7 linked regions of the Homo sapiens genome follow. The protein of the gene in region 1 interacts with the protein of each later gene in a pairwise test. Each region holds a gene or a part of one and is shown in the gene's direction. Other genes may lie near its edges.

Evidence for each region.
Region 2: the proteins of UQCRC1 (region 1) and ARHGDIB interact in binary tests that used the Homo sapiens proteins (3 or more experiments, as listed by UniProt).
Region 3: the proteins of UQCRC1 (region 1) and SULT1B1 interact in binary tests that used the Homo sapiens proteins (3 or more experiments, as listed by UniProt).
Region 4: the proteins of UQCRC1 (region 1) and ZNF488 interact in binary tests that used the Homo sapiens proteins (3 or more experiments, as listed by UniProt).
Region 5: the proteins of UQCRC1 (region 1) and SOX14 interact in binary tests that used the Homo sapiens proteins (3 or more experiments, as listed by UniProt).
Region 6: the proteins of UQCRC1 (region 1) and EEF1G interact in binary tests that used the Homo sapiens proteins (3 or more experiments, as listed by UniProt).
Region 7: the proteins of UQCRC1 (region 1) and C2orf15 interact in binary tests that used the Homo sapiens proteins (3 or more experiments, as listed by UniProt).

The regions. Positions count from the first base shown.
Region 1 is NC_000003.12:48,603,147-48,606,646, reverse strand, and holds part of UQCRC1 (cytochrome b-c1 complex subunit 1, mitochondrial precursor), read left to right. Parts: intron 1-790; coding exon 791-877; intron 878-1,496; exon of another isoform or gene 1,497-1,727; intron 1,728-1,866; coding exon 1,867-1,996; intron 1,997-2,215; coding exon 2,216-2,414; intron 2,415-3,003; coding exon 3,004-3,083; intron 3,084-3,500. UniProt on the Homo sapiens protein: Component of the ubiquinol-cytochrome c oxidoreductase, a multisubunit transmembrane complex that is part of the mitochondrial electron transport chain which drives oxidative phosphorylation.
Region 2 is NC_000012.12:14,948,102-14,951,601, reverse strand, and holds part of ARHGDIB (rho GDP-dissociation inhibitor 2), read left to right. Parts: intron 1-450; exon of another isoform or gene 451-685; intron 686-877; 5' UTR 878-889; coding exon 890-1,070; intron 1,071-1,716; coding exon 1,717-1,800; intron 1,801-2,705; exon of another isoform or gene 2,706-2,802; intron 2,803-3,500. UniProt on the Homo sapiens protein: Regulates the GDP/GTP exchange reaction of the Rho proteins by inhibiting the dissociation of GDP from them, and the subsequent binding of GTP to them. Regulates reorganization of the actin cytoskeleton mediated by Rho family members.
Region 3 is NC_000004.12:69,733,121-69,736,620, reverse strand, and holds part of SULT1B1 (sulfotransferase 1B1), read left to right. Parts: intron 1-2,356; coding exon 2,357-2,483; intron 2,484-3,113; coding exon 3,114-3,208; intron 3,209-3,500. UniProt on the Homo sapiens protein: Sulfotransferase that utilizes 3'-phospho-5'-adenylyl sulfate (PAPS) as sulfonate donor to catalyze the sulfate conjugation of dopamine, small phenols such as 1-naphthol and p-nitrophenol and thyroid hormones, including 3,3'-diiodothyronine, triidothyronine (T3) and reverse triiodothyronine (rT3).
Region 4 is NC_000010.11:47,374,294-47,377,793, reverse strand, and holds part of ZNF488 (zinc finger protein 488), read left to right. Parts: intron 1-3,254; exon of another isoform or gene 3,255-3,333; intron 3,334-3,500. UniProt on the Homo sapiens protein: Transcriptional repressor. Plays a role in oligodendrocyte differentiation, together with OLIG2. Mediates Notch signaling-activated formation of oligodendrocyte precursors.
Region 5 is NC_000003.12:137,763,039-137,766,834, forward strand, and holds SOX14 (transcription factor SOX-14), read left to right. Parts: upstream 1-1,276; 5' UTR 1,277-1,746; coding exon 1,747-2,469; 3' UTR 2,470-3,296; downstream 3,297-3,796. UniProt on the Homo sapiens protein: Acts as a negative regulator of transcription.
Region 6 is NC_000011.10:62,559,096-62,561,493, reverse strand, and holds the end of EEF1G (elongation factor 1-gamma), read left to right. Parts: intron 1-1,039; coding exon 1,040-1,212; intron 1,213-1,300; coding exon 1,301-1,425; intron 1,426-1,656; coding exon 1,657-1,815; 3' UTR 1,816-1,898; downstream 1,899-2,398. UniProt on the Homo sapiens protein: Probably plays a role in anchoring the complex to other cellular components.
Region 7 is NC_000002.12:99,140,447-99,144,506, forward strand, and holds the start of C2orf15 (uncharacterized protein C2orf15), read left to right. Parts: upstream 1-1,260; 5' UTR 1,261-1,491; intron 1,492-1,838; 5' UTR 1,839-1,955; intron 1,956-4,060. Other genes in the region: TSGA10 (testis-specific gene 10 protein), read right to left, coding at 622-693.

The DNA.
Region 1 (3,500 bases):
GCCTCCCAAGTAGCTAGGACTACAGGCACGTGCCACCACACCTGGCTAATTTTTGTATTTTTAGTAGAGACAGGGTTTCACTATATTGGCCAGGCTGGTCTCGAACTGCTGACCTCGTAATCCACCTGCCTTGGCCTCCCAAAGTGCTGGGATTACAGGTATAAGCCACCGCGCCCAGCCTGTGGTGCGTGTTTCACAGCAACCAGGAGGCTGTCAAGAAAATTAATATTACCTTATTGGGTGCCAAGGCAACACTGTTTGGTGTTCAGAGCTGATTAAAAACAACAACAAAAAAGATATTATAGGAACAATATTTAGTGTGATAAAATATACAGTCTAAACCAATAGTCCCTTCCTTAATGATGAAAGGATAAAATCATTGCCAGAACAAAGGCAGCGTGTAATTTTTAGAAAGGAAAAAATAAGTTGTTATTTGCAAATGATATGTTGTATGCTTAGACAAAAACAAATAATTAACTGAAAATTGAGAGTGAATTTAAGGATTTGTATGCTGGTGAGACCAGGTAAATGTGCACAGTTAGAAGTGTCCCTGTGGGTCCTTGATAGCCAATCAGGAGAGCAATGATGTGGTGTGACGAGTCATTCGGCTGCCCCTGTTTTCCAAGCATGACTGTGTCCCCAAGCACAGGGGTCCTGCTGGGGCAGCTCTCCCTGACTCCAGGATTCATAAGTCCCTGCCTGGGGCTTGTACTGAGTCACTCAGGTGGGGTGTGAGTAGGGGGCTGGGGAGTGGTTTGTTTGTAACCTTTTCTGGTGGCTTCTTGACCAGGTGGGAGTGTGGATTGATGTTGGCAGCCGTTTTGAGACTGAGAAGAATAATGGGGCAGGCTACTTTTTGGAGCATCTGGCTTTCAAGGTGAGGCTCTTAAAGTCTGTCTCCTCTGGGCTTAGGGCTGCCTGTTGTCCCTCCTGAGGATGAAGGTCAGAAAAATTAGCCTGATTATGGGCCTCAGTTGCGGGGCTGATGTCTGGCTGGCTTTCCTAAAAGGAGCCACATGAGCTTAACCTCTCCTGAGTGGGCACGTATCTGATGAGCCCCTGCCTGAGGCCCTCAGAGCCAAGAGGACCCAAGGAACCATAGGAGCCCCACTTTTCACCAGAGAAGCCAGGCCTGTGGAACACACGTAGATATGCACATGCATTTTAACAAACCCACAGACATGGGCATGCATGCTTGCTTATGAAATGTTCTTCTCTGGTGGAATATCTAGGCATCCCTTGGTTGTAAAGACCCATGTTTTTTAAAGGAATGAAAAACATGGAGAAGGATTATGGGGTGGGCAGGGCCATGGAGCCATAGTAGGCAACCTAGCCAGCTGCAATGTCACAGGTATGTGTGCAGAATTAACGTGTGTGTGCACACCAAGAGATAGCACCACTGTTCTCCACACACAGGACTAGGATTGGGTCCCACAGAGGCCACTAGCATGTATTCACAAACATACAGTCATGGGAATGGCATGGGAGGAGTGGGTTCTATCACTTGAACACAGGTGTGGGCTTACCTGACCATGGCTGTCAATAAGGAGGGGGGAGGTGTACTGGTAATGATCCCCACAGCTTGTTGGTAAGCTGTTACAGGAGCTTTAGGCAACACTTGCTCTGGCCATGCCCTTCAGTCCTGGCCCTGGCTATCTCTGTTCTGTTGGCGCATGATGCCATGGTTTTGGTCACCTCAAGGCCTGCTTAGTGCTTGGTAAACAGACTCTGGGATCTGTGTCCCCAGAGTCTATGCTGAGGGAGGTACCTGTGGACCAGTGGTCCTGCTGGGTGTTTAGCCTCTGAGGACAGGGTTCTTGGGTTCCTGTGTAGCTCCTGATTGTTCTGGTTGATATCTGGTTCCAGGGAACAAAGAATCGGCCTGGCAGTGCCCTGGAGAAGGAGGTGGAGAGCATGGGGGCCCATCTTAATGCCTACAGCACCCGGGAGCACACAGCTTACTACATCAAGGCGCTGTCCAAGGATCTGCCGAAAGGTAACACCTGGAGGAAGAGGCGGGGACAGAGGGCAGGGAAGCAGAGGACAGCTACCTAGGAGCCCCTGGCTGACCACAGAATCATATTACCCTTAGCGTATGGCTTTGCAGCTGGGCAACTAGGGGTGGGCAGCAGGAGATGCCAGGCCTGGGGATTTTGTGCTGTCGTTGGTCTGCAGTGGTCCACCTGGCACCTAAACATGTCCTCCTTGCATCTAGCTGTGGAGCTCCTGGGTGACATTGTGCAGAACTGTAGTCTGGAAGACTCACAGATTGAGAAGGAACGTGATGTGATCCTGCGGGAGATGCAGGAGAATGATGCATCTATGCGAGATGTGGTCTTTAACTACCTGCATGCCACAGCATTCCAGGGCACACCTCTAGCCCAGGCTGTGGAGGGGCCCAGTGAGAATGTCAGGTGAGAGTTGGCTGGCCTTGTGGGGGGATGCTTGCTCCATTCTGGCCTGGCCAGACCCTTTCCAGGTCACATTTTTAGTTGGCTAGCTGTCGGGGTTATTTTCCTGAGTTATGCAACTGGAGACAGTTTCTGTATCCATGTGGTCCAGTGAGTCTTTTTTAATGGCTTTGTGGGCTTCACTTGAATTTTGGGCTTTGTTTTAAGGTATGTTTTGGTGCATGTCCTGACAGTCCAAGGGCGAAGTGTCTGGGTGTCCCCTCCATGTGGTCTCTTGTCTCCTTTGTGGATGGCTCCGGGAGCTTTGATGCTGCCCTTTTGAGAGTCCCACAGTGTTGGCTCACGCCTTCTCAGAGAAGACTATGAGCCTGTCCTGAAGTCAGGCATGAGGCAAGGGCAGACAAGGGTTGCCCTCTGGGCCCTGGAGGGGTGGGTGGCAGAGACAGGGGAAGGGGGTTGGGGAGTGTGCTAGGGCCCACTCTTCGGAGAAACCATGCCTCTCCTAGTCTGCCTCCTCAGTCCCATTCATGCATGTACCCCAACTCACTCCAGTGTGGTAGAGGTGTTGACACACTGACCATATGTCTTGTAGGAAGCTGTCTCGTGCAGACTTGACCGAGTACCTCAGCACACATTACAAGGCCCCTCGAATGGTGCTGGCAGCAGCTGGAGGTGAGTGATGGAATCACTGAAGTCCTGGGTAGTGGGGTCCCAGCCTTGGTTATCAAAGCCGAGGTCCTGGTTCCCACCATAGGGGACCTTTCACCCCAGGGGACTCTGCTCCCACCCTAACCTTGAGGGGAATGACCTTCCTCCTGTGCTCTCTGAGGTGGGATAGGATTCTACCCTGCCGCCACCACTGGGACTGGTTACACAGGATGCTGTCCCTCTGGTACAGGTCTGTCTTAGCCCCACCTGGTTCTAGGATACTGAGTTCATGGGCTGGTAGGGGATGTAAGCTCCTGGCCTTGTTCCTTGTGGCCTTGCCCTTGGGAGAGCCAGCCATTAGTTGTGTGTTGATGCATGCCTGATAACAAACCAAGAAGTGCCTTGAAAGGAAGGCACAGAAGGGTGGGGAAGATTTCACTG
Region 2 (3,500 bases), on another chromosome or scaffold:
GAGAAGGGGAGAGACTGAAAGGGAAGTGGATCCAGAAAAGGGAAATGGATGGACAAATGCTAAGGGCAAATTTGTACTTACGATTTTGTCTGGAGGAATTTAAACTGTCCTTTGCTATTTTTGTGGCATTTAAAAAGAATAGAATATCTTTAGATATAAAACCTTATATATCAATCAAGGAAATTGTATAAAGTGCCAGAACTATGCAAGTGTTTTAGGGGGAATTCAAGAAAAACAGCAAACCTAGTACCCACCCTTGAGGGGTGATTAGCAGTGTTGGGTGTGAACCATGCAGGCACCTGAGGCAGGTATCATAAAGGTCAACGGTTCGTCATGAGTCATCTTTGAGGCATTGCTGGAGTTCAGGGACAGATTCCATTGATGGGGAGGAGCCAACCATTTCTCTGGCAAGTACTCCACCTCTCTCTTCTCTCTCCTGCCTCTCTCCACCATTATCACTCAGACTGTGCATGCTGCAAGCTTTGACGCTAGCCAGGCTGGCTGGATTTGGAGGACTGTGATAACTCCTACAGCTTTTTGACTGGGCTTTTGCTTCATTTGTTCAGGAGTCTTTGTGCCATGTTGCTTCACTCGTAGTACGTTATTCACATATGAGTGATTTCTTTCTTGTCAGTTTTGTTCAGTGAATAGAAGATACTACAATGGTACAGAGAAATTCAGGCAGGTCAGAGAAATTACTAGAATACATTAGATTATTATTTCATAGAATTTAATGAGATTGAATTAGGAAAACAATCAGGAAAGTGACTGATGATCAGAGAAGTCCATGAGGGTAAGGAGGCTGCTAACAGCAGCCCCACTAACATCTTTTATATTCATGACTTGTTGACTAACGGGCTGTCATTCTGTCTCCCAGAAATAGATCAGAATGACTGAAAAAGCCCCAGAGCCACATGTGGAGGAGGATGACGATGATGAGCTGGACAGCAAGCTCAATTATAAGCCTCCACCACAGAAGTCCCTGAAAGAGCTGCAGGAAATGGACAAAGATGATGAGAGTCTAATTAAGTACAAGAAAACGCTGCTGGGAGATGGTCCTGTGGTGACAGGTATGTGTGTACAGAGAACAGGGTGGGTGGAAGATCGCTGAGAGGGAAGAAGACATTTTGGCTGCTCAGGAGCAGCAGCAAAGGGAAGAGGACCAACTGCTTCCAGGAAAAAGTGAGCGAGGCACAATTTATATATGCTGATTAAAGTTATGAACTGTATAATTAAGTCTTCTTAAGAGATAAGATGCAAGTCAGCAGTGAGATAGGCACACATAACACACAGAGGGGATTTAGAAAGAATTCCAGGCTACCACTTAGAATTGTATTTCTCTCTCTCCATTTTCTCTCTTTCTCAGTCCTTACCTAACCGTTCATCTCTTCCACATACACCGCGGCAGAACAAGACATGGCCCAGAGATATAAATGGACAGTGCCCAATTAGCAGAGTACCTGACCCATAGCCATTCAGGAAATGTTGGATGTCAATAATTAGATGGACCTACAAGTGCCTAAAGCAGAAATAACTTTGCTGTAATTTACAAGGCCATCAAGACCAAGCATAGCAAACCTGCCACATCCATTTCTATTTCTACTCCAGATAGAAAGATCACTTTTATTTTCATACTCTCTGTCTCCCACTTGAAATGCACACACCCACTATACACATGTCTCTTCTTGGTACTTACATTCCCTTTCGATCCTGCAGATCCGAAAGCCCCCAATGTCGTTGTCACCCGGCTCACCCTGGTTTGTGAGAGTGCCCCGGGACCAATCACCATGGACCTTACTGGTATGTAGACACATCTGTACTGTTCAAAGGGGGCCTAAGATATCACAAAGAAAACTTGGTCTCTGTCTCCTGTTCCAACAGAAGAAAACTGGTGAATCAGAGAGATATATATGCTAGGACCAGTTAACAAATCATTGCTCTTAGAGTGCACAGTATTTACCATGTTTCATGAAAAGCCCAATCTTTATCTCTATTTAATTGAAGAGAGTGCAGGCATACACATTTGATATATTTACAGATTTTTGTCTCCACATGATAGTAAGAGAATTGTTATTTATGCAATAAAGACTGCTGATGGAAATATTAAGAAACAAATTGTGTGCTTCTGAAGTTATAAGGTTTATACAGTCTAAACATCAAAGTATTGATCTTCTATCCACTACAAAACTTACTGGAAGGTGAGAAGCAATCCGGAATTATACTAGAAATTCCACTGCTATAGATTGAATTGTTTTAGCTTGAAACTCTGATTCTTGTTAAATAAACAACGTCTCCTACTAAAGGCGTACAAATTAAGATGTTATTTTCTTTCACCTTATTGTAACTAAGGGTCAAGCCTTTCCCTGAGACTTAGGGCTTGAGGAGGAGAGAGACTGGGAAGGGGGTTATTGTGGAGGAAATGGGCATCAGAGGGGATATGAGAGGAGAAGCACGGAGCCAGGAGATTGGGGCCTTCAAAGGCAAGTTTTTAGTGGAAAAAAAAAATAGTTACCAAATGAAAAAATTGGACTCTTGTGAGACAGACAAAGCACAAGTCTAGAACAGTTGGCTTAGTTAGCAGCAGAGTAGTTCCCCTCTCACAGGACACAGCCAGTCTTTACCTTATATGGGCTTTTTTGTCAGAGGGAGGAAATCAGAGGCTGAGAAGGCACACTTCCTGTTCAACTGAAATCATTAGAGCAGGCACACACACACATTCAGCTACCCCGACATGCTGACATCTCTCCAGGAGAGAAACTCACGCTCTCTCACCAGAACTCAGAGTCTTCCTAATATTACCAGGTACAGCTGCCAGTTTGCAAGATAAGGTCTGAATTAGCGCTAAAGAAATCTGTTCTCTTCAGCAGGACCTGGTAGTATTGCAAGGAAAACTTGGTCTCTGTCCCCTTTCCCAGCAGAGGAAAACCAAATTGGGTTTTCTGTCACTAACAAGCTGCTATGCATGAAGAAAAGCATAGAGAGTGATTACCTCCTTAATCAGGGTACAGGAATTTGGGACAGATCCTGGTTTTATGGAACCTGAAGCTTTTATAACTTCAGTGATATTCCTTAAGAAAAATAGTATGAAATTGCAAATGAAAATACAAGAGTAAACACAAAGGTGAACATTTTCTTAAAGTGATAAAATGAATAAAAACAAGTAGAATTTTAAAAGCTAGAAAATGCCACAAACATCACCAAATCTATAAAAACAAATAGCTGACACTCCTAAATACTATTTTTCTTATATGTTTTATTTGAGGGGTAAGGGGCATATTCTTTAATAACCTCTTCATTTGACCAGTAATATAATTCTCAATGAGAGAATAAATGGACCAAAAAAAGATTTATCTTCACAACTCATTATTTGTAATGTCTTGTGTATTTTTAGCATTGTCATCAAACTTGGGGGCAGGGAAACTCTCATGTTTTTCATAACAGAGCTGTAAGATTTCAGGCATTAAGTGTGTGTGTGTGTGTGTGTGTGTGTGTGTGTGTGT
Region 3 (3,500 bases), on another chromosome or scaffold:
ATTTATTTTAAATTTTTTTTCAATTTTTAACTTTTGTGGGTATACCATATGTATATATATATTTGTGTGAATAGGAGCCTCATAACTCAGACTGGTACCTTATCCCACTGTCGCTGAGCTGGTATCCAAGATGTAAGACGAAGTCCTCTTTGCTCTTCCCTCTCCTCTGCTCAAGTGGAAAGTAGGGATCTCTTTTGAATCCACCAACTGTGCAGCCTGGAGTCTGGGGAAGGGTGGCACAAGCAGTCCCTTAGTCTTGTATGTCTCAGTGTGTCTTGTACCCTCCAAGTCCACTGGCTCTGAGGCCATCTCAGCACTAGAACATGTCTAGAAGTATGTGGTTTAGACTGTCTTTCAAGTTTATTTACAGGTGCAGAGCACTTTAGCCTATGGTGGTGAGGCTTGCTGGAACTCATATTTCTACCACTGGGACGTGTGATTCCCCTCTAGATAGGATTGGTCTATATGCTTCCTTCATGGAAGGCTGTCAGCTGAGTTCAGTCTAGTTTTGCTTTCCACTGTGACAGGGCAGCACTGAGTTCAATGCAATGTCTCATAATTGCTGTGCTCTCCCTCTCCCAAGTGCACAGATTCTCACCATGCCACACGGCTGCTACTAAGGGTTGGGGGAGGCATGGAAATAGCAATTCTAAGACTGTCTTTCCTATCATCTTCAGTGGCTGTTTTAGTGATATGAAGTTAAAACTAGGTACTGTGAGTGCTCACCTGATTTTTGGTTCTCATGAAGGTACTTTCTGTGTGTAGGTAGTTGGCAAATTTGATATTCCTTTTGAGGTGTGGGGGATGATTGGTCCACCCTCCAAGACAACTTGTAATGGAATGTTGACGCTTTTTTATGATAGCTACTTTAAATCTTTGTCAGATAACTTAACATTTGATTCATCTCAGTTTTGTTTTTCTTGCTTATTTGATTTCTGGGGCTGCTGGACATACTGTACCATCCCTGCTGATGCCACATAAAAGGAGTATAAGGTACTTTCCTGGACTTCCCACTCTTGTTAGCTGACTTTTTGAAAATTGGAGAGAAGCCTTCGGGCCTGGGAGAAACAGGGCTTCTCTGATGTCATCACTGTGAATGGGTGGGACTGCTTATAAAGCCCCGTTTATATCGCAGGAGTTTGAATGTCCCAGTACTTCATTGCCATTACTGGCAGTGAGTTAGCTCACCTACAGAGACCCGGGTGTGGAGCAGAGTTTGGAATTCTCCACTATGTCTCTGTTGGGCTTCCTCTTTCCTAATCCTTTGACCAGGGAGAGCAGGTTTTTCTAGATATTTTTTTGTTTCGTGTATGCCTGTAAATGGTTCCAGGTCACAGTCCTTTTTGCTGCCCAATCCAAGAGTATATAGGAGATAAAAAGGACACCTAGGAGGAACTCACCACATTGGCATTACTCAGCTCTTTGTCCAGTATGCTTTTGGAGTTCTTGTATCATTGTAAGTTGAATAATTTCCAGGGCTTTAGTGACATTAAGAATACAAAAGGCCGGGCACGATGGTTCATGCCTGTAATCCCAGCACTTTGGGAGGCCGAGGAGGGCGGATCATGAGCTCAGGAGATCGAGACCATCCTGGCTAACATGGTGAAACCCCGTCTCTACTAAAAATACAAAAAATTAGCCAGGCGTGGTGGCGGGCGCCTGTAGTCACAGCTACTCCGGAGGCTGAGGCAGGAGGATGGCCTGAACCTGGGAGGCGGAGCTTGCAGTGAGCTGAGATCGCACCACTGCACTCCAGCCTGGGCGACAGGGCGTCTCAAAAAAAAAAAAAAAAGAGTAGCGAAGTAGAAAATAGTGAGTCTATACCTTCTAGTTTCTGAACTGGATGCCCCCAAACTTATTTTAATGCCTTTTAATATCTTTACCTTCTTTTCCTTTCTATATATTTTTATCAGCACCTAATATTTTTCTCGGTATTTCACTGGTAGAAGTGAAAAGTGAAAACTTTTATTTTTTTCCCACAATTTTGTTATTTTCAATTTGCTGGTATTCTCTTTAGTCACAGTGTCATTTTCTTGATAATGTGTGTTCTAGGACCTTGCAGATCTTCCAGAAGCCACAGTGGTCTATTAATGCTTCACAGTGTCAAGTGGCCAGAAACTGAAATCTTTTTTTCAAAACGTCTATAGCTCGATGGTTCTAATCTCAAAAATGCATTGCTGTATTGAAAATCACTTGAATTGATTCTATATTTTAGCTGTTAATAGAAGGGCCTCCCTGGCCCACAATTTCTATTTGAAAAAGTACTCTGCTTTTTTACATGCGTATAGGTTAATTTTTTCCTAAACAAAATGTCTTTTATCTTATTTTTTTCTCCTACCCCCACCCCCCACTGCAGATGATTTATCTGGCTCGTAATGCCAAGGATGTTTCAGTCTCATATTACCATTTTGACTTAATGAATAATTTACAGCCTTTTCCTGGTACCTGGGAAGAATATCTGGAGAAATTCTTAACTGGAAAAGGTATGTGGACTTTATCTTAAAATTGATAAGTATTTTTTATTTTAATAATACTATTAACAATAACTTTTATGACTTTCAAAATACTTATTTTTCCAATCTAGTGAAAAGTATGTTCAAATATTATCTAAAAAACTAAATCTAATGCATCTAATATTTTTACTATGACCTTCAATTTATAAAACTAGTATTAATCATTGGCATACAAAAGTATTCTATAATCTGTTCTCAGTTGCTAGAAGTCCATTATCAGTCTCTCCTCACAATAGACATTGTTTAACTTGCTTAAGCAATTAGTTAGATCTGTTAATGCATATGTCATATTTATAGTACTTAGGTAAATAGTTGATATGAGTACTTTGTAAGATAATAGTTTTCTTCTTTATGAGACTAAGTATAACTTTTTGGAGGTCAGTGTATTTTTGTCTGAAATGCTTTCTTTGTACTTGACATTAAAAAATATCTGATGTTTATATATCCATAAATAGCTAATTTTACTTTTTAAGATTGTCCTCATATTCTTACTTCCTTTGGTTACTAAATTCAAAATGTTTTCACAATTTGATTTACTATTCAGACAGAAATATTTAATTTGATGAATGTTTATGAAAATAGACTTTTATCTGGTTTTAGTGGCCTATGGTTCCTGGTTTACTCATGTTAAAAACTGGTGGAAGAAAAAGGAAGAACACCCAATACTTTTTTTGTACTATGAAGATATGAAAGAGGTAAAATGGTAGATATGGATTCTGGATAATTTCCCCACTGCATCATGCTGTAAAAGGGTTGATATTTGCTTTCCAACTTAGTCTATCGAGTCCAAAATGATGATTGCTTTGCCTATCCACCATGTGTTTTTACCCAAATCTTGCTATAATTAATGAGTTTCTAATTGTGAAAAGAATTATTTATTTTTATTCCTCTTATTTCTTAGCCACTGCGTTATATCTGACCACTCTTTCTTCTGCAATTATTTCCTATATTTACCAGGATATCACATGCTTACAGTTATCCTTAGAT
Region 4 (3,500 bases), on another chromosome or scaffold:
TGTGAATGTGGCAGCTGCTGCTAGATGCTGACAGGTGCAGGGGCAGGGCTGAGCCGGCGCCTCCGGGTGGCAGCCGTGTGTGTGTGTGTGTGTGTGTGTGTGTGTGTGTGTGTGTGTGTGTGATTGTTATTGCTGGCTCCTCTGGGTGGCAGCCATGTGTGTGTGTGTGTGTGTGTGTGTGTGTGTGTGTGTGAGATTGTTATTGCCGGCATCTCTGGGTGGCAGCTGTGTGTGTGTGTGAGTGTCTGTGTTTGATTGTTATTGTTCTGTGAGAGAGTCCTGGAGGTATAGTGCTCTGAGCTGAGGTGAGTTGTCACATCCATAGCAATCAGGATTCTTTGGATGCAAACCACAGCGATGGACTCTGGCCAACTTTGTGAAGAAGGAATTAATTAGAAGGTTATGGTGGCAGGTAGATCACAGTGTCAGAGGAAGAACTGGAGAAATAAGCTCAAAAAAGACCGGGATTGAGCTATTCAGAGAGTTCCAGTACCAGGCACACATAAGCAGCTTCTCAAACTGAAACTGGGTTTGGTTAGGAAGGATGCTGAGTAGCATAAAACAGAACCAAGCCATCTGACTGCTCTTGTCGTAGAGATCGCGTATTCCTCCTTTCCTGTCAGCTGGTTTAAAAACCTGGGGCAAAGGGGGACCCTGCAGTCCACCCCACTCTTCCTGAGATGCCCTGCGGGGGTTGCAGAGATAGATCAAACACAGGCTGTCTCTCCCCAGGGACCAACAGTCCAGTAGGTGATAGCGGCAACACTGACTATGGCCAGGCAGGCTGCTGAAGGTGGTCTCTGCAACCCGAGTCAGCATGGCAGCCCTGACGGTGTTTTGGTGTGAGCAGCTCGCAGATGCAGCCCAGTTGTTTTGCTTTCTGGGCTGCTTCTTGAGGGTCACCTCAAGTCTGCACACAAGGGTAGAGCTGCAAGCTCTGGAGGGAAATAGCACTGGGTTATAATTTCCACTGGAGGACATCTATAATTTCATGTCTCTGAGTGTGAGTTTGGCCACAGGCTCCTCTGTAGGTGTCTGCACGGGAACCAGTGAGGACCCTCAGGCTTGAGCCCCCATTCTGCTGGATCTGGTGGTCTGGAAGGCTGGGCATAGTGTGACTGCCTCAGCCCCTCCATTTGTGCTAGGGCTGGGGGAGAAGGAGGATGGGGTGGGGAGTTCTCTGACTTTGCACGGTGGGAGTACACCCTTCTTGGAGGATATGAGTGCAAATGGATGTCAAGGAGCCCAGAGCTCTTCAGAGCAAAGAGCTGGGCAAATTCCTGGCTCCCACTCTAACTCTCTCTCCTTATTCTCCCATACCTCCCTCGGCAGGGTTGAATTTCACAATTGGGTCTGACCTGGCTTAGTGTGAATGAAAAGTGGTCGTTTACAGGAATCCTCTCTGTCTCGCTGAATTCCTGCCCCTCAGTCTTTTCCTCACGATTGAAATATACCCAGCCCTTCTTTTCCACTAGGACTTTGCCTGTGCCATCTTACCATCCCTGATTGGTGAACTCGTATTCATCCATCAACACCCAGAGATAATATCACCTCCTCAATGGGACATTCCTCAGGCACCCCAGGCAGTCCATGGTCCATCCCTGATCTTGAAGCATTTCTCCCAAACCACTCAAGTGGGCTTGTCTCCATCCCAGGTCCTGTTACGAAGAGGTGTTTTTCTCTCTCATTGCATGTGGAGCAATACTTCCATGCTATTCATCCTGTTATCACAGAATAAAAGAACGACTGTCTCCCCTAAGAGATATGGTGTGGGTCCCTGTGGCTAGACCATGTGATCTTACCCATAAACAGTCCTCACAAACACTCTCGATTTACGTCTAACCCACTCTTGTCACTGCCTGGCATTCGCGTGTGCCGTTCTTTCTGCCCTCTCTTTTCTTTGTATCTGTCTGCCCTTTGGAGGCCTCCTGCCTCTTCCAGGAGGGTCTCTCTGATTATTCTGGTGCCCAGAATTAGAAAGTATATGGGGTACATGCTGTGGTGTGTGGTAAGTGTTTAACAGCTGGTTCTCAGCATGTAGCTGCAACATGGATTTTGGGTGATATTTTCATTTACAATAAAGTGTAAGATGAAAGTGGAACAATGAACATATGTCAGAACTTCACTTGTTTGTCAGTGATCTAAATAACTTCTTTCCTAAATCACATAATAGTTTCGGAATACTAGAAGAATAGTCCCTCAGCTTTTTGTGAGCTATTCACAATATAACAGCTATCGACAAGACAAAAATTTCAGTTTAATCTGCATTATTGACAATTTTTTTCCATTACTTTCTTAAGTCCAGACAATGAACAAAACAAGAAATCAAGCCTTGATTTATAGCATTTCCATAAATAATCCCATTCTGGCTGATTCCCTGATTTCTGGCCACTCACGATATCCCTGGATGTGGCATGAGGAGGAGTGGACCGTGGCAAGCCCCCGCACCGGCAGGTGGAGCAGCGTCCACAGCGTAGGCAATGGGAATGTGTAGTAGAATGACTAGGAAATGATGGGTTCTGAGTATGTATTGCCTGTGTTTTTAATATAACTTCTTTGACTGTAAGTTTGTATAGTTTAGTTTTGAATAATGTCTGAGTTAAAACAGCTAACTTGAAACATTCCTGATCATCTCACAAGCCACTGTGAGCTGGCTCCAGCACACCACTGGCTGCATACCAAGAAAATCAAGTTGCAGGCAGAGACGAAAACCTTCAGACAGAATTGCGTGGCTGTGTCCACTCAGTTTCGTCAGGGGGTGAGCTTTATTAAGTGCCACAGTAACAGATACTGTCATTGGTTCAGTCAACAACTGTTTCTAACCCCATCTCACTTGGCTTTCCTGCACTGCAGAGGTTGGGAAGCTAAATCCATGTTTCCCAGACTCTTTTGCAGCCAGGGTGCAGGCCTTTGACACAGATCCTCACAAGCAGCCAGATACATCACCCAGCCCCGGATGTGCAGTCGAGTCCCATGAGCTGAAGTCTTTGGCATGCAGGTGATATCTGTCACTCACGGTGGCAGGGACATCTGGACTTGTGGGGTGGCTGTGGTGGACTTTGTAGGAGTTTGGTCCCTTGTGATTGGTGCTGGTACCAGCAGTTTCTACTAGACAGTGCCAGGGCATGGTTAGGCTTTTTTTTCTGGCTACCCTGACCCTTGGAGAGCTCCCAAGCTTGGTCTCTGGCTCTCACAGGGATTTAATGAGCTGCATGATAGCCTTTAATAAGTTCCTTTCTGTTTAAACTACCCAGGTAGAGGCTGCTGTCTGCAGGTGGGAAGCCCTGATTGCTGGAACCTAAGGGATGTGAGAAATCACTGTGGAGTGTCAAGGTAACCAGGGATCTGCTCCTGGGACCTATTAATCCACCTCTTTTAGAAGGAGTCCACAGTCCTGTTTGTATTTGAATATTCATGAACATTAGAAGAGCAACTTAGTCTGGGTATGGCTATGGCTGACAGAAGTATCATGCTGTGTCACAGCTGATTATTAGATCTGC
Region 5 (3,796 bases), about 89 Mb from region 1:
CTCATTCCCTGTCACCCTCCCCCACTCCTAGCCCCTCGGAGCCAACGGAGCCTTGCGCGTTTCTGGCCGGTCCTCCCAAGAGAGAATGGTGCAAAAGCCAATAAGCCTGGAACACACGCAGGTCCCGCCGGGCCTGGGACAATGGTTTCCATTTAATAAATATTTCCCCCAAGGGCATTTCACATCGGGCAGGCAATTATTCAAAGGAAACAGGCGCGCAGGTTGGCTCTGCGGGTTATTTCGTCCTCTTTACCCGAAGAATGCTCATTTGACGCAAGAAACGAGTCTCGCAGCCTCCCTGGGTGGGAAGAGGCGCCCAGGGACAAACCGACCCTGGTTGCGATACACCGTGAGACTCCGCTGTAGGGCCGCTGCAGAAGGGGCACCGGGAAGAGCCCCATACCCAGCCTCTAGGCTCTTCTTACGGTATGAACATTTGTGGAGTAAAAGTTGGAGGTTTAAAGACACTAAATAATAATAACATAAATGGGAACTGCAATAGAAATCTCAGCCCCATCCCTGCCCCAAAAGTGAAGAACAGGTCGTAGTGCTTTTAAGGGCTCACCAACTAGGGTTCGAAATCTCTGCATTGCCTGACGCGAGGCCTTCCAGGAGCAGGTCAGACAACATTGCTCAGCCACCCAGGGTCCCAGCGCTACGCCCGGGCGCCGCATCCTGGGGCAGGGGTGGATGCCTAGTTGCAGGGGCTTCCCGGGAGAACACTGCCAAAGCACCGCCGAGGGTGGGGCGCGAAAAGTTTATTTCGCTTTTACCCTGAGCCTGCTATATGTTATTTTTCTCTTCCAAGGATATTTGACAAGAGGGCAAAGTGCTGTCCTTGCATTTCGCGGCAAAGCTGTCCTATTTATCAACACAAGCTCTCGCCTCGCTCCCTTTGCTGTCCCTTCCCCGGCCTTTGTATTTCAAGCCCTAATTCTCTTTCACAACCGGGAAAGGAAACAGGAGACGCGGAAGAGTTTTATTTGTTGACAGTGCCCGAGACAATGTGGAACCGAAGTCCCCAGTCTAGAGCTAGCCTCTCTGCTCTAGCCCTCTCTCTGCCTCTGTCCCTCACACCTCTCCCCGCCCCCACCAGTCGCGCTCTCTGTTTCTTGCACCGGCGTGTTGGCAGGTGCGCCCCCTCGGCTTCTCTGCTGCTGATTGGCGCCCAGGTTGGGGAGTCGCCGCCCCGCGCTTATGTCAGAGTGCGTGCAGTCCCGGCCCACCTCGCCTTTGAACTTCGCCGCTTTTGGCTCTCGTTCACCAGCCTCCCCGCATTCTCAGCCAGGTGCAGCGCTAGGCGCGGCAGCTCCGGGAAAGCCACGGGAAGGGGGAGCCACGACTGGAAACGCAAGAGGAGAGAAGGGAACTAGAGAAGGCAAAGGTGGAGAGGGGGAGAAGGAGGAGCTTCTTGCCCTGGCTAAAAAATTACCTGGCCACTTAATCCCGGAGACTCCGATACTTGGGTCCCAGCCCCTGGTGCCTGAAGCCCCCCGGCCGATCGCCCTCTCCTCCCCCGCCCTTTCTGCCCCCACTCGCTCCCCCGGGGCTGCCTGGGCGCTGGGACTGGCATGATCAGCTGAACTTTGTGGGGTCAGCGCTTCTCTCTGGCTTCCCCTCAGCGGCGCCAAGGCGAGGGGAGCGCAGAACCCCGGCTCAGGACGGACAGACAGACGGCCAGCCGCGCCCAGGCTCGTCTGCAGAACCCTTGCACTCCCTACCCCCACCCACCTAGCCGCCGGGACCATGTCCAAACCTTCAGACCACATCAAGCGGCCCATGAACGCCTTCATGGTATGGTCCCGGGGCCAGCGGCGCAAGATGGCCCAGGAAAACCCCAAGATGCACAACTCGGAGATCAGCAAACGCCTAGGTGCCGAATGGAAGCTTCTGTCCGAGGCAGAGAAGCGGCCATACATCGATGAAGCCAAGCGGCTACGCGCCCAGCACATGAAGGAGCACCCTGACTACAAGTACCGACCTCGGCGCAAGCCCAAGAACCTGCTCAAGAAGGACAGGTATGTCTTCCCCTTGCCCTACCTGGGCGACACGGACCCGCTCAAGGCGGCTGGCCTGCCCGTGGGGGCCTCCGACGGCCTCCTGAGCGCGCCCGAGAAAGCCCGGGCCTTCTTGCCGCCGGCCTCGGCGCCCTACTCCCTGCTGGACCCCGCGCAGTTTAGCTCGAGCGCCATCCAGAAGATGGGCGAAGTGCCCCACACCTTGGCTACCGGCGCTCTGCCCTACGCGTCCACCCTGGGCTACCAGAACGGCGCCTTCGGCAGCCTCAGCTGCCCCAGCCAGCACACGCACACGCACCCGTCCCCCACCAACCCTGGCTACGTGGTGCCCTGTAACTGTACCGCCTGGTCTGCCTCCACCCTGCAGCCCCCCGTCGCCTACATCCTCTTCCCAGGCATGACCAAGACTGGCATAGACCCTTATTCGTCAGCCCACGCTACGGCCATGTAACCCCCAGCCCGGCCCGGACCTGAGGCGTGGTCTGAAAGCCGGGTCTGCACCCTGTCCTCTGAGCCTAGCCCCGGCCTGCAGACGCCTCCGGGGTCAGCCCTGCCGCTGTCCCTTACACCACCCAGACTTTTCCTCTCTCTTCCAGGGGGAAGGGTGGGGCGTCCTCCCGGACCCAAGGCGCAGACAGGTACCGGAAACTTGCAAACGTTATGTCAGCTACACAGCTGCCCCTATCCCGACTCTCCCAAAACAAATCTCCGACTGTACCCCCTTTGGACAAAAAAGTAGGCAGTTTTGCTTTATTTATATCCCCTTCACTCTCCTCGGATAGGCTTTGGACTCTGAACTCCCAGATTCTGATATTATATCTACAATATGCATATATTTTTTCCTTTTGTCCCCTGAAGAAAAGAGTTAGCTGTGTCTCTGTGTTTTGCCATCAGACACAACTAGGAGCCATTTGCTCTTCATGTATGGGGGGGAAAGGCTTCAAAGTTTTAAATTACAGAAAGGGAAACATTTCTATTTAAAACCATGCTATGATAGTGTTTGCTTCTTTAAAGGGAAAACAAAAAGGACCTACATGGTTATTTACTTTGTGTAAAGCAGTGCTTCTAGAGATCTAAGTTTACTTTTAGACAGAATGTCGGGTTATGAAGTCAGGAAGTAGAAGGTGAACAAAAAATTAAAAGAACAAAAACAACCTAAATGGTCATAAATGTTTTGACGATGTCTTGGAAATGTACCTAGAAGGATTTTACCTCGTTGCTCTGTTCATTTGTTGAACAAAGACGTTTTGAATAAAGACAATCTGTCATTGTAAAAAAGTAACCTTTGATGTGCCTAAAATCTGAAGTCAGGAGCCAGGTTGGAGGGACTGGAAAGTCGGGTGCGGGGAGGCTGAAAGTGCATAGAGCGACTTTAAGCAGTGATGGCTGGTGGCTGCCCCCCGTTGGCCCAGCTTGGTGGTCTGCGGGTTGGGTGTAGAAGGGCCTAGAGCTTCGGATCCGTCCGGAATGCGCCCTGGAGATTGCTTTTTGCCTTTAGAGGCTAGACAAAGGTATCGTTCCCTGGGACTTCACTCTCTCCTCCCATTCTTCCCAAAAGGGTCAGGCCACTTCAAGGAATGAATGAACTAAGTCAAAGGCCGACCCAGACCGCTGAGATCTGGGTGAGTTTACTTTTTAAAAAACCAAACGCTGAAGGAGCAGGGAGAAGCACCGAGTCTCCTGGGAACCAGTTGCGCGCTGAACACCCCGTCCTGCATTGGATGTTTAAGTTCAAAGCATGGGAGAAGACTGGGGGAATCAGGTATTCTGCCTTTTTA
Region 6 (2,398 bases), on another chromosome or scaffold:
ACCATGTTGGCCAGGATGGTCTTGATCTCTTGACCTCGTGATCCGCCCGCCTCGGCCTCCCAAAGTGTTGGGATTACAGGTGTGAGCCACCCTGCCTGTCCTTTTTTTTCCCCCCAGACAGGACTCTTCCTCTATCGCCCAGGCTGGAGTGCAGTGGCGCGATCTCTGCTCACTGCAACCTCTGCCTCTCGGGTTCAAGCTATTCTCCTGTCTCAGCCTGCCACCACGCCCAGCTAATTTTTGTATTTTTAGTAGAAACGGGGTTTCACCTTGTTGGTCAGGCTGGGCTTGAACTCCTGACCTGAGGTGATCCACCTGCCTTGGCCTCCCAAAGTGCTGGGATTACAGGCGTGAGCCACCGCATCTGGCCAGTGTATATGTTTATAACTGGAAAGAAAGAAAACAGAGCACCAATCGTGGAGGGAGTGACCTCTGCTATATTGATGCTGGCATTCTTGGCTCAGTATGCCAGATTGCTTTTAAGATAACCTGAACCTAAGGGCTTTCCAGCATCGGAAAACCTTGGAAAAGACTAAAGCTTGTTTATAGGCAGAGATGGACTAAAGGACATGGGTGTAAGATTTGGGGTGGAGGCCCTTTGAGAATGTTCACTGCTTACATTCCTGTTACAGCTTGTGTAACCTGAAGAGGCCTGTATGGTGGGGGGGAAGAGACTTGGGTGAGTCAGTGACTTAGTGTGGTTCATGGAAAACAGCCTGGGGAGGGCCTGAACAGGGAAAAAGAAGTCCTCACTCTGTCTCCACCTGGGGGCAGCAGTTAGCCATGCCCTTCCTGGGGCAGGTCTCAGAGTCCCACTTTGAGTTCCACCCTCCACATGCCTTGCATACTTATGCAGAGGAGTGTCCTAGGCCCCTGTTCAAACCCCTTGAGCTTACTTCCCTCATAAGGTCATACACATCTGCCAGCACAATGACCATTTCCTTTATATTAGTAAATTTTAAGTGAAAGCACCCTTCACTTCTCTTAGCCTGGCAACCTTCCTCCTTATTGATTGACCCCTGTGCTTTCTTCCTCTTAGTACCTTTGTGTTGGATGAATTTAAGCGCAAGTACTCCAATGAGGACACACTCTCTGTGGCACTGCCATATTTCTGGGAGCACTTTGATAAGGACGGCTGGTCCCTGTGGTACTCAGAGTATCGCTTCCCTGAAGAACTCACTCAGACCTTCATGAGCTGCAATCTCATCACTGGTAAGAGAGTGGGTCTGAGAAGGAAGGAGAACAAGGTGTAGCAAGTGCTGTGATTCCAAAGGCTGAATGTTCTCCCTTGCCGCTTCAGGAATGTTCCAGCGACTGGACAAGCTGAGGAAGAATGCCTTCGCCAGTGTCATCCTTTTTGGAACCAACAATAGCAGCTCCATTTCTGGAGTCTGGGTCTTCCGAGGCCAGGAGCTTGCCTTTCCGGTGAGGAAGGTGGAGGAGAGGAGTCTCTTTAGGGTGGGGCAGGGATATAAGAAGCACTGTGTTTTATTTCTGAGTTGATGGATGTTTAGGAGGGTTCAGGAATGCTTATAGGAAGGAGCAGTTCATGTTCACAGGAGACCTGGGGTCTGATGACATGTGTTTGAGCTGGAAGTAACACAGGTGTGGGGTGGTGTCTCATAACTTGACCACATGCTGGCTTTTTATCCCCAGCTGAGTCCAGATTGGCAGGTGGACTACGAGTCATACACATGGCGGAAACTGGATCCTGGCAGCGAGGAGACCCAGACGCTGGTTCGAGAGTACTTTTCCTGGGAGGGGGCCTTCCAGCATGTGGGCAAAGCCTTCAATCAGGGCAAGATCTTCAAGTGAACATCTCTTGCCATCACCTAGCTGCCTGCACCTGCCCTTCAGGGAGATGGGGGTCATTAAAGGAAACTGAACATTGAACCCTTTCCTGTCCTGCCTCCTTTGTGAGTGGTGGCGTCTTCAAGGGGAGTAGATATGTTGAAGCAGGGTACTTTCTGTGTTCGCAGTACCTCGATATGCAGGAGAGAAGACTTCAGAAGAACAGAAATAGAGGCCTGTGTTCACTTGTGATTTTAATTACCCTGCCTCCTACGGTGATGACTGTCTTCTAGCTGGGAAAGAGCGGAAGCAGTTGGGGCGGGTAGTGACATGGGGCTTTGTGACTACCTAATTCTTAGGGATCAGATTCCAGGCCTTTCCCAGTGAAGGGAGAGAATAGCTGCTAATAACAAGAGCTAACGTGTATAATTCACAGAGCGCAAAGGAACTTTACATTATTTCCTGTAACTGTCCTGTGAGGTAGGTAGCTGACAATATGCAAGGGTTGTAGTTTCTTTTTCTTTTTTTTTCTTTTTTTTTTTCAGACAAGGTCTGGCTCTGTTGCCCAGGCTGGAGTGTAGTGGTGCAGTCTCAGCTCAACCTCTGT
Region 7 (4,060 bases), on another chromosome or scaffold:
ACACTATAATCTATGCAAACTTTCCCGAAGCTGCGAAAAAAAAAAAGTGAAAAAAAACCATATTTCTGTGAGTTTTTAGGTATCAAGTCCATGATCACCTAGTTATCCAATTTAAGTCTCAAATAGTTTTTCAACAAAAGCCAGCTTTCCCTGCCTTTACTGTGTATAATTTTTACTAAAATTATCTGAGATTTTCATGCAAATGCCTATGTAATCTCAGCCTTTCACCACCCCAAGTCTAGAAAGAGGCTCAGAAATGAGCGATCGGGAGTCAGGCTGAACTCCCAAATCTGTGACTTCCAAATTCCTCGGCTCCACCAGAGCTTCCAGAGCGTTTCTAAACTGAACAGTCTCCCCAACAACCAAGCGGAGAGCTGCGGGAGGACGCGAAGCAGTGACCATAGGAACTGGGCTCAAACCTAACCTCCCAAGAAACAGGGGCAACTCGTGCTGCCGAGCTTCCGGCCGGCAGCTGTGCCCGCCGCTGCCCCTCACAGCCGCTCCCGCTGCTAGCGCCCAACTCCGCCCGCCACGGCCCCGCACCCGCCACTCCTGCCCGCTTGCAGCCGCCTTCTCAGAGACCTTCCAGTCCAGTAGCAGCACTCTCCCCACCCCGCGCACCTCCGCAGCTTCTACCTGGAGCTCCGGGTCCCTCCCCGGGCTCCTCGGCCCGCCGTCCTGCCCAGAGCTCATCCCCGCGACTGTCAGCTCTCGGCCTCAGCGGGGGATACAAGAACCGCCCACTCTCCATCCTCCGCCCCTTTCTCCTCCCTTCCCACCCCCAAATCGTCCTGGCCCCGCCCCGGCGGATCGGAGGAAGGACGGAGCCCGCGGGAAGGAGGAGGGGGCGGTTAGCGCCAGCCAGTGCCGCCGTGGCCCCGCCCTCACGCTCTGTACCGGAGTGGGGCTCGTCTTCCACCTCCCCGGCGCCCCAGCTTTGCTTCCGTCCCGCTCGCCCCCAGGCCCGGTGCGCACGCGTACCTGGCTCGACCTTCCTTCTCGCGGGGTCTACAAGCCGTGCGCGCGCTCCTACGCACGGAGCGACGCGTACGTCTACCTGCCTGCCTTACAGGGCACCTAGGAGGGACCCCTTCCTGGCCCATCCGCGCCGCGCAGGCGCACGCCCACGCAGCGCCTAGACGCCCGAGCCGAGCGTCCCGTCTCCTAGTAACCAGCCGCTAGCCCCCTTTTCCACGACTCATTTCTTAATCTCTGCCTGAGGCTGCCGCACCTGGATGGAACGCGCATGCGCAAGGCTGTCTCTCGCAGCCCCGCCTTCCCTCAGCTTGAAACACCTGCTGCTTCGCGGCGGTGGCTTTGTGCCACTTTTCCCAGGGCTTGGGCATCATTCTGGACCCATGTTCGGTGAACCGGTTACTCTCAGAGCTGCTTTCGGGCGCAGCTCCTGCTGCAGCCAGGGCCCGTTTTAAGAGAGGCTTCCAGGTCCAGCCCTCCCGCTGCAGCCTGCAGGGAGCGAGCCGGCCTGTCCCGGTGAGCGTGGGCAGCCTGGAGTCAGGGGAGCCTGGGGACCACGGCCTTGGTCAGCTCTGCACGATCAGGGCTGAATCAGGAAGTGGCAGATCTAGCAACAAAGTCCAGATTCCTGACCGATATTCCTTCTCCACATGCCAGTCCTTTTCCAAATCCCCTCACCTTAAAGTGACAAATGAGCTTTTTAGTGAAAAAGAATGAGCGCTGCATTCTTCTACCAATTTTTTGGAGCCCAGAATGGGGGGGAAAAAAGTCTTCTTAATTTTTCTTAATACCTACCATGTCCCTTCTTAAATAACTCAAGAGCTTCTGGATGATAATGGTGACTTTATCTCCTTTTCCTGCAGATGACATAGACACTAGGTTTTTACAGCAATTCTCTGATGACCTTGATATGGTAGAACGCTGTGTATTTCAAGAGTAAGCTCTCGTTTGAGGAGACTAACAATTCCTGTTTTCGCCAGGTGAGTACTCATTTTTCCCCCCACAAGATATCATTGGCAGGGATAAACAACTTTTGTGTAGAACAAATTTAGTCATAAAAATACATTTAATATAAATGCCATGTTTTTCCAATGTCTTTTCATCGTGTTATTACATGGTCTCATATTTTGTCGCATTTATTTTCAGATATCATATACTTTGTAAGTATAATTAGATACCAAAAAAAATTAAGTGTCCCTGTTATTTTAGATTAAGAGGTTAGAGGACACAAGGAGCACATATCCTCGGAAATGTAATTTTTTAAATGCACAAAATAACAAACTGAGAAGTTATGTTAGAGGGAATAATGTATAATCTCATTTCCTCTTCAGATACTAAGATTATTTTGAATACATTATCTAGCATTATTAAAAACAAATAGGAAAGAATGTTCTAAGTTTAAAACTATCAGCTGGAGTTGAAGACTTCGGGGGTGGGGAGATTATTAATATAGGAAGTAGGAAAGTACTTCCCTTATAGAAAGAATAAGAAAAGTTTAAGCACTTATGTATGCCACCTAGACGGTACTGAAGATTATTTGGAAAGAATATAAGGAAATGATCATTTTAAGGCCAAAAGAGGGTGAAAAGATTTTCCTTTTTTTTCCTATCAAGAACTGTTGACTTTCTCCCCTAACCTGAGAAAGTAAAAATTTCCTTCCCTCTGTGGAAACCCAAGGGGTAGTGAGTGTCCCACCCTGCCCCAACTAAACCTTTTTTTTTTTTTTTTTTTTTTTTTTGAGACAGAGTCTCACTCTGTCGCCCAGGCTGGAGTGCAGTGGCACGATCTCGGCTCACTGCAACCTCCGCCTCCCGGGTTCATGCCATTCTCCTGCCTCAGCCTCCCAAGTAGCTAGGACTACAGGCGCCCACTACTACGCCCAGCTTTTTTTTTGTTTGTTTTTTGTTTTTTGTATTTTTAGTAGAGACAGGGTTTCACTGTGTTAGCCAGGATGGTCTTGATCTCCTGACCTCATGATCCACCCGCCTCAGCCTCCCAAAGTGCTGGGATTACAGGTGTGAGCCACTGCGCCCAGACTTTTTTTTTTTTTCCTTTTTTTTAAGACAGAGTCTCACTCTGTTGCCCTGTACCCAGGCTGGAGTGCGTTGGCATGATCTCAGCTCACTGCACCCTCCACCTTTCAGGTTGAAGCAGTTCTCCTGCCTTAGCCCCTTGAGTAGCTGGGACCACAGGTATGTGCCACCATGCCCAGCTAATTTTTGTATGTTTTTGTAGAGATGCGGTTTCACCATGTTGCCCAGGCTGGTCTTGAACTCCTGGACTCAAGTGATCCACCCACCTCAGCATCCCAAGTGCTGGGATTATATGCATGAGCCACTGTGCCTGGCCCAGGCTAAGCCTTATATAGTACCCTGTGCTTGCTCTCTCGTGACAGACACCTTCTAAGGTCTTGGTTTTCTAGTCCCTTAATTTTTCCATCATTTCAAAAGCTTCACTACAAAAACCTCTGTTATTACTATTTTTTGTTTTGTTTTCACTGTCCTCTTCCTGATCCCCTCAAAAAAAAATCTGGGACTCCAATTCCATATGTGTTAAGCCACTTGATCTTGTTCCACAGCTCACTGATGCTGTGTTCCTTTTTTTTGTTTGTTTTTTTGAGATGGAGTCTCGCTTTGTCTCCCAGGCTGGAGTGCAGTGGCGCGATCTCCGCTCACTGGAAGCTCTGCCTCGCGGCTTCACGCCATTCTCCTGCCTCAGCCTCCCGAGCAGCTGGGACTACAGGCGCCCACCACCACGCCCGGCTAATTTTTTTGTATTTTTAGTAGAGACGGGGTTTCACTGTGTTAGCCAGGATGATCTCGATCTCCTGACCTCATGACCTGCCCGCCTCGGCCTCCCAAAGTGCTGGGATTACAGGCATGAGCCACCGCGCCCGGCCTGTGTTCCGTTTTTTAAATCAGAGAGTTTCCTCCTTATGCCGAGGCCTGAAAGTTCCAGGCAATGTCCATTCATAGGGCTCACTTTATTTCCTGTTTCTCAAGGATCACTCTCCCGAACTGCCTGTTGTCCAATATCTAAAAGCCATTGCTTCATGTGTTTTGTGTTTTGATGCTGAAAGCAGGCG